Regions from separate parts of the Homo sapiens genome. Here region 2 is linked to region 1. Evidence: fine-mapped expression QTL. A gene starts in region 1. The other region holds a variant in brackets. All regions are shown on one strand. Distances are between the middles of the regions.

Region 1 (4,383 bases):
CCTGTAAACAGCAAAACTGAATTCAACTCCCCCCTACATATATACAAAATTATGTAATTTATCCAGTTAAATGTTATGTTATCAGACCTATTGGGTCATGGTTTAGAAAGCTATCTTCTTCCCACTGCTTAGCTCTATATGCCAAGAGTTTTTTTGCTTTTTTTTTTTCTTTTCAAGTATTAACGGCAATGTTCAGAGGCAAGAAGAGGATTAGCTGAATACATTGGGTTCTAATTTCTGTCTCCCTCACCCTGGCCACGTAGGCTCCACAGGTCCAGGCAAAGGCTGCAGATCCAAGCATAAGGCAGCTTCCTCCCTACATCTTTCCCCCTAGAAGCAGCCAGGCAAGACCTTGGCCTGCCTCTTCCTCCCAGGGAGGCTCCTAGGCCTCTGTGCCACGTAGGCAAGATAATCGGAATGTCTGGAATGGAACTAGTGCTCTAAGTGCCAAGCAAGGGAAGGGAGAACGGTTAAGCTTTTCCTTCAGGTCCCCAGGAGCCTGCAGCTGCCACACAGCAGGCCGGGAGCCCCCGCCACAACCCAGGGAGGAATGCTTGCCAAGAAGGCCTGCCCAGCTACTGACACTTCCTCCCAGAGGTCTTAAAGGAAATCCCAGTAAGGCCTGAGTACCCAAGACAGCCAGATCACCCGTGCCAGAGACTGGGCATTTGGGGATGGGCTGGGCTTTCATAGAAACCTTCGGAATTGCTTTCACTTAATTCTTTTATTTTAAAAAAAAGTTCTAGAAAATAAAGACACATCGATAGCAATTTGTATTTCCATTGTCCTCTTAGGTCTGCATGGCTACTGTGCGAGCTATGACACCCTGCAGCCTGCAATAGCTTCTTTGTTTTATGGATGAGCTCAATGGAACCCTTATGGACGCACCGGACCATGCCCAGGACCAGCGAGGCCCATCCATACCCCACCACTGGCTGGAAGGGCGCTGGTGTGAACGTGGGTCCTTGCGGGGGTCCCTACCTCACTGCGGTCAGGAGGGGGCAATTCACACATTTCCTCATGCAGGGGACCTTCAAGCCTCCCTCTGAGGCGCAGACTGAGTAAAAAGGGCCCAGAGATACTGTCCCGCACCCCCATCCAGTGGGAAAGGGCCACTCAAGGCCAGTCAGGACTCCCAACCCAAGTTTTATGCCTTATACTCCTATAACTTTACCATTTGCTCTTTTCGCGAGGCTGACCCCCTCCCTCTCCCCCCCCACCGCCTCCTCCAGAAACTGAAGAACTGCAACAAAGTGTCCAATTATACACGTCTTCAAAGGTACTTTACTTGCTTCCCAATTATCAACTTTTCACCTGAGTACTTAGTAAGGCCCAAGGATCCTGCAAAAGTGCAACAAGGAATAATTGACACAGAATTGGACGAATGACTTTGACCATACGGGACTTCTCTCTTAACGCTCAGCGTGGCTACCTGGGGACGCCTTCTCTGGCCTCCCTGATTCGTCAGATTTGTTCATTTCCTTGACTTAATCCCGCTGAAATCGACCCGAACTAGCCGGGAGTCTCACCCCCAAAGTGCTCCTCCAAGAACCCGCAACGACTGACTCTCTCGTCTTCTTTAAGGAGTTTCTCCCTCAGAACGGATGAGGATGTCACACAGAAAGAACAAAATCACAAAGTTCGAGTTCCGGAGGACCAGACGGCCCCTGCCCCCCATCCCCCGGGCCAGATTTAGCCGAGGGAACCGCACGTACCTGAAGCCGAGGCCGGCAGAGAGGGAGCGCCACGTCTCAGGTCTCGGCCGGCGCCCCCCTCCGGGGTGCAGCCACGTCTGAACCGGGACAGCGGGCGGGGGAGCCGCAGAGGGACCCAGTGAGACGGGGGAGGGAGCCCCCAAAAGTCAGCGCTCGGCCGCACTCGCACTGGGGAGGCTGGAATGGAACTCCTGGGGTGCAGCGGGGCTCCCAGGAGCGAAGGTGGGGGTCCTGTACCGGGAAGGGGCGGGGCCCGGGGAGGGGCTCGGGGAGGTCAGGCGCGGGTGGGGCGCTCGAGTTTCACCCCGGCGGGGAGGAGGAGGAGGAGGAGGCGGCGCGGCGGCGGGGGCGGGGCAGGGGCGGGGCGGGGCGGGGGTGGGCCCAGGCTGTCCCCCGCTCCCCGCCCAGCGCTCTCCGCCCCGCGCTCTCCGCGCCCGCTCGCCCCGCGCCGATCTACTTGCCGGGAAGGCGGCGCCGGTGGCGGCTGCTCTCCCTGAGCCCGCTCCCGAGCGCTGCTTTCCCGCCGCGGGTGGGCTTCGCAGCCTCAGGCCAGCCGCGGCCCTTGGCCCGCTGCAGCCCCGGCCCTCCACCTTCCCCGTGCAGGGGCGGCCCGGCCAGTGTCGCTCATCCCGGGACGCTCCCTTCTCCCACCCAGGACTGCCCCGCGGAGCTGGCTTGGACACCCAACTTTGCCACCTCGAGGGTCGTCTCTGCTGGGCGCGAACCTGCCCACCCACCGGTTGGCCGCGCGCTCGGGGACCGTGCTCGTGGCCCCCAAGCCGGTGCCCCCATTCTGGAACTCAGCGAGTAGGGGGCGGCTCTGGGGAAGTGGCAGGGGGCGGCTGCAGCTGCTGCCTCCACTTCCCTAGCCAGGTGCTGAAGAGGATCCTCGGAGCCGCTCTGGCCCCCAGGCGCTGGATGACTGGCACCAGCGCTCCTCGCACCTGGTGAGCGACCCCCGCCCGATTCCTGCGTGGCCTTGGCAGGAGCCCCTGACCGCGCCGCGCCGCGCCGCGCCGCTGGCCGGGACCCGGGGACTGCAGCGGTCGGCTGGTGGGTGGTGCCGATCTCGGGTGGGATCCATCAGCAGGCACCTGGGCGGGGGTTGCGCGTACAGGATTAGGACGACCGTCAGTCCGGGGGCGCCCACAGTTGAGCTAGTGCACGGGCTGGAAGTTTGTGTACCCGCCTGTGCCGAGGTCTGAGCATGGAGAGGTAAGGAGCCGGAGTGTCGCGGTGGGCGAGACGGGACCCCTGCCCAACACCCGGAAAGGTGCGCACACTGGTCTGTGCCCGCCCCCGGCGCGCCTCCAGGCTCGCACTGCCGCGAGCCGGGGGCAGGGGACACGGAGGTCGGGACTTGGCGGTTCGGGAGCGGCCACCTCGCAGCCCCACCGGCTTGGGCAGGTTTTCCTGCTTTCCTTACAGGGGAACCGGGAGGCAATGGGACTTGGGCTCAACTCCGCCAAGCGCCTTGGTTAATGAAAGACACTAAGGCGGGGGATGCAGAGGCCTGGGGAACCACCAGCCAGGTGCGCTGCAGCTAGGCGAGCCCCTTTCACCAGGCATCCCTCCGCTGCTCCACGGATTTTGCACACCGCGGCTCAGGGTTTCAGACCCCAGGGTTTCGGGCAGATCGGGCTCCAGAGGGAATGGTTTCTCCCAAGATGTGCGTGGGAACGGTCGTGGAGGAGTGATTCCCCCGGCTCGCTCCCCGCGGCGGCCGGTGCCTGGCTTGGAGCGGTCACATCCCTGTTCCCCTGGCTTTGGCGGGAAGCGCGTTCACCTCCTCGCCCTTTGCTTGCTTTGTACCAGGATGCCGCGGCCGGAGTTGGGATTTAACTTTCCTGCGCCTGCGGCGTCCTCGGGATTCCCGGCAGGGGGCGCTGCGAGCGAGCGCTCGGAGGACGAGGCGCCACAGGCAGTTGCTGGGTCCTGGGCGAGTGGGCGGGAGTCCCAGGCAACAAACAGCAGAACCAGGCAGATCTTGCAATAATTTCATTTTGGGGGCCGGGGGTTGGGGGAGCTGATCTGGTGGCTATAGAGAGCTGTCAGCCTTGCTAGGAGAGGGGACAGGAAAGGTGGTGGCCAGACATAAATGCTCTAACTAGAAAGGTCTCTTCCAGAGAAAAAGATCGCTGTAAAGTCTTCCTTGTCTGGGCATCTGCCTTCCTTGTGACTGTTACATTTACTCAGAAAGAAATCGAAATTGAGGGAAGATAACGTGAGCTTTGTTTAATACCGTTCTGCTTTTTAGGGGTACTTTAGTTAACACATCAGGAGTCACAAATGATTGTTCTGGTTTGTTTTGAAGAAAGACAAGTTTTACGTCTAGCTTACCGAGAAGAGCTCTGTCATAATGGCTGAGTTTGGAATCAGCAGATATGTTATTAATTATAGAGGTAGTCTGTTCATAAGGAGACAGAAACACAAAACCAGGCTTTAATAAGAAAGATTTTTCAATACCTAATTAGGATTGCTGAATTTGTTGCTAATTAATGCCAGTTTCATTATTTTAGAGAGTGTAATGTTTATCATGACCACTTTACACAACTTCAGTTCAAGCAGATAATACCATTAAGTTATGTATAACTGAAATAATTTTCTTGTCTGTGCCTGTATTTACACCAAAAGAAACATGGATTTTTTTTTCCCCTCCAAAAGATTT
Region 2 (4,383 bases), 110 kb after region 1:
CTCTAAGAATGTGTAAAACCTGTTGTATTAGTGATTATGGTTGATCTCAGTCAAAGGGTACAGTAGTACCCTTTACACTCCAGCTGTGGAAAAGGTGCATAGCTGGAGTCCAGGAGAGGCTAGTCACGAGCTTCTGATGGTCTCTTTCCAGTGGAGACACGTGGACAGTGCTTCTTCCCCCACAAGGATGTATGACAACATGCATAGGGTGTTGCCAACCAGGCGACTTCACCTGAGCCTTGGTGTCCTGAGTTTTTATTGAGAATTGACCACATAGACATGGCCAGACTAATCCAGAGAGGCCCAAGCCCTCAGCCATTAACCACATGGTTAGCCTAGACTATCTGTGTGGCCTAAAGCCCCCCCAAAACAAAGTCTCTCATCAGGCAGGACATTCTAAGGTCTTAGAGGTGACTTCCCAGGAACTTGGCAAAGGCAAGTCCTTTGCTTGGCAAGGGCCATGTTCATCCTTCACTGCAATTCTCCTCATACCTGGAGTTCTCTGGTGGCGGCTTTTTACCCCAGCTTCTCCCCTTCTTGTCTTGTGCATCCTCTGCAGAGCTGCCATATTCACCCTCCCAAAGTTTGCTCATCCTGACATCCCACTGAACCTTCAGTGACTCTGCCTTCCTTTGGATGAAGTCTCATCTCTTTCTCATGTTAACATTCCCTACAATCTGTGTGTCATCTACTTTTCCCATCTGTTAGCTGTCTGGAGTGCCTCTTTTGAGCTCTCCATGCTCTTGCATGTGAGTGATCTTGCAGGTAGTCATCGTGGCACATGCTGCTGCTAGCCGATGCTGGCTGCCTCCACACACTCCTGATGCCACCCTCCCTGCTCCTTGGCCTGCCACCTGGAATCCACCCTCCTGTTTACTTCCTTGTCTTCCTCCAGGGACTTGAGCATGAGGCCAGATTTCTGTCTGTGATTCTTATGGCATTGCAGTCCAGATTTTTACCTTTGTGGAATTGCTTTTTTTCACCTATCTCATTCAGTTTGCACTCCTGCAAACTCTTATCTTGGTGGGCTCCGTGGTGGGGTTTCCACCCAACTCCAGGGATGGTACCAGGAACTCATGCTTTAACTCACCATGGTGCTGGCGTAAATGGCTCTTCTCTTATACCTGATGACTTTCAGCTGTTCCTCCCTCATCTACTGTTTGTTTCACCTGCAATGCACCCACTAAAACATACTTCACTGTGTCTTTTAATATCCTCCTTATCTCCTCCTCATCCCTTAGAGCCCACATCACATTTCCCATTTTCAGAAATCTTTTCCTTGACTCTTCTGCCCATAAGTAACTTCTCTTTCCTCCAATTCATAGTATATACTGAACTACATAGCAGAAAAATCATATAGACAGCTCCTGAGAGTGTAATAGGTTCTTGTTTTGTCTTCTAAGCATCCACCATGTGTGGCCATGGGGCTGTGCTGTGCATGGTGATTAACGGAGGGACTGATGATGAGAGGCCTGTCAATTAAATGCCATGGCACTGGTCTAAGTCTTGCCTTTGGGAAATGCTGGCCCAGCAGTTCTTAGGTTTCTTGAACCTGTATCTTTTACGGTTTCTTTTCATCACTCCACTAAACTTTCTGATGCCAGGTGGTCTTGTCCATTTTTATTTCCAGTGTAATCTTACTGTTGTACGGTTTCTAAATTCAGCTCATAAGACTGGCCTGGCATGTTAATTTCTGCCATGTATCTGCAGGATAAAGGCTACCACTCAGCTCA[A/C]CTTTGGTCTCCAAAATAATGCTTAAGTCTACATCTTACCTCATTCTGAGTAAGTTGGGCAGGGAGAAGGTTGCATATTTTAGCAGAAAGTCATGTGCTGATGAGCACTTAGTAAGTTATAATTGGTATTCAATCTTCTTCATGTAGTTCCATCTAGAGACAATTTGAAGAGTGTAGGTGGCCACAGGGCAAAACTTCTGGGAAAGAGTTACTGTTTGTAAATCAAAAGTGTCGTCAAGATAGTTCTGCACATATATGTTCATGGTGGCATTTTTTAAGAGGCAGAACTCTGAAAATTATGACTCAGAGGATTTCAGAGGTTGTTGGCACCAAGGTTAAAGCTAAGCTAAAAGAGAAAAGAATAAGGATAATATGGAATTGAGTCAAATAGAGAAATTTATATGTTTATAAAAAATAAGCAGTTTCTTATTAAATGGGTAGTTAACTGTCGCTTAAAAATTTTCCAACTTCCAGTCTGGAGTGAGCCTCTGGGGCTTTGTAGTTTCTTTGCCTTTCAGCTTTCTTCTCAGTTTTCTAGAAAATATGTCAGTGATTTATGATTAATGCATTGGCTAATTTATGACCTTGCTGGGAGAGGACACGGGGGCTCTGCTTCTGGACCTGCAAGAATCATTGTCTGTTCCTCTAGCTTGGCTCCAACTCAAGGCCTCTGCTTTGTCACTATCATTTCTGTTCCTGAGTGCACGTTCCCAGGCACACATGGGTGTGTTGGTGAGCACCCTGTCTTCCCCAGGCAAGGGCTGACCCTCAGGAGCAGAAAGTCCCAACATGGCTCACTTGGCTGACAAGCCCCCAGGCTGTTAAAATATCTTTTTCACTATTTATGTAAACACAGGCACAGTAACAACCCTTTCGGGTGGACACCCTTGAATCCTGCTGCTGAGACTGATTTCCTGTTTAGACATCAAACTCTGTAGGAAGCTGTGTTTTCCCCCAAGCCAAGAGAGCTCTGTCCTGTGGGTATTGCTTTTCCACAAGGAAGGGGCTGGGTTTTGGAGTCTGTTGGTTGCACCAGGACTGTCTGGCGGTCCAGGCTGTGGGCTGTCCATGCTGGATTCGGCAGGGATGTCTTCTTCCTGCAGTATTTGCTCTCTGGTTGTGTTACTGATTGTGAATTCTTGCAATGATCTTTTTGGCCCCAGTCTCTTTCATTTAAGAGACTGACCCATATTCTGCAGGTGTGGTTTTGCTGTCCAGCTGAGGGTTCACATCAGCTCATTTGTGACCTCACTGGGGGAGGCAGGAGACCTATTAGCCCTGTTTTTAATGTAGTTCTGAGACATGGGAACTTACAGAAATTGCCAGCTATTCATGGCGGTAACCAGAGGATCTGTCAAACTTTATTACTTACATTTCAACTCAGATCTAAACAACTACAAGGACATTTTAGTAATAATTGTTGTAAAATAGATTTTAGGACTGGAGAGAGGATGCTTGTGTATTCAAACATGCCATTTAATAAAGGAGTTTCAACTAACATATTTTGTTGCCACGCCCAAAGGTGATATTAGTGATGTTGTGTAAAAGAAATTGGCCACTCTGAGGAATATTTCTGAGACTGAGTGTGCTTCCCTGGCTCCTCTTTTGGCTTCAAGGATTTGCATCTGCACCTTCTCCTGTCCAAAGGATGATGTCACGGACTTTTGAGGACTCTGCTGGGACTGGAGGATTGGCCGTGCTGCACGATATGAGGGTGCCTGGGCTGCTGGGGCGTCTCAGGCAGGCATGTCCCAGTGTGTTGCCCTGGGTCACCCCCTTGCTTCCCATGAACATACCAAAGGCCCGTCCTGGAGGAAGGGAGACTCATAGAGAGGCAGTGCCACCTTGACCTGTTCCCTGGCCTCTGAACCCTAGGGCTTCCAAAATGGCACTTCAGCAGGTATAACATTTTATAAATTTCCAGCTGCTGTCGTTCAGTTCATTTTCTGCAGGCAGATGGCCTCGGATCATGACTGAAGCTGACCGTGTGGGAATCACTGCCTAGAGGGACAGCCAGAATGTTCTGGGAAGTTCTTTCTCCCATTTTCCCTTCTTCAGGGTGGCGAGGAAGAATGTCAGGGTGTTTCACATTTATAGCAGCCAGAAGCTGCCACCTGGGAAGTGTAGAGAAAAACCAGATGAATGAAGAGAACAGAAAAAAGCATGAGCCCTGAAATGCAGTATTTGAAGTCACAGGCATCCTTCACTGGTGATGAACACATTTCTCATATGGATCATAGATGGAAAGTCACCTATATTTTCAGCCTCTGGCATACATGTTTCTAGGGAGGCTGGCGTTTCGTGGTCATCTTTCCATCCAATGACAACATCAAGGTTTCAGAATTTTTGTATATGAAATTGAATGACGAGATTGGACAGGTTTACTTGGTTTTGGTAAAGTGGCTTGTTTTTCACGATGCATCATTCCTTTTCCTATAAAGCCTCATAATTGTGCACCTAATAAATCAGTATGTAAATAAAAATACAAACTCAAATTTCTAGCAGAGTTTGTGCTACTGCCTTTGTCTCCTGTTCTTGAATTGTATAAGGTACCATGTGTTCCAAAAAGTGGAATGAGTCATGAAAAGGATAAATTCATATAATGAATCTTAATTTAATTTTCAGACTGCTTTAGATAATTTCAGACTGG

Evidence for each region. PIP is the estimated chance that this variant, and not a neighbour inherited with it, causes the effect.
Region 2: its variant is the best candidate, but not a certain one, in a credible set for the expression of SEMA5A in fibroblasts (GTEx, PIP 0.67).

What each region holds. Positions count from the first base shown.
Region 1 is chr5:9,543,863-9,548,245 of GRCh38, reverse strand. SEMA5A (semaphorin 5A) reads left to right here and starts at 2,171. Exons shown (of 23, transcript NM_003966.3): 1 at 2,171-2,662. SNHG18 (small nucleolar RNA host gene 18) reads right to left here and starts at 2,046. Exons shown (of 3, transcript NR_045196.2): 1 at 1,716-2,046. RefSeq lists a silencer at 2,048-2,237.
Region 2 is chr5:9,438,159-9,442,541 of GRCh38, reverse strand. The region is part of intron 1 of SEMA5A (semaphorin 5A); the gene reads left to right. Among named protein-coding and RNA genes, the nearest start is that of SEMA5A-AS1, 71 kb to the left of the region's middle. The variant A/C (reference allele first, on the strand shown) is at 1,734.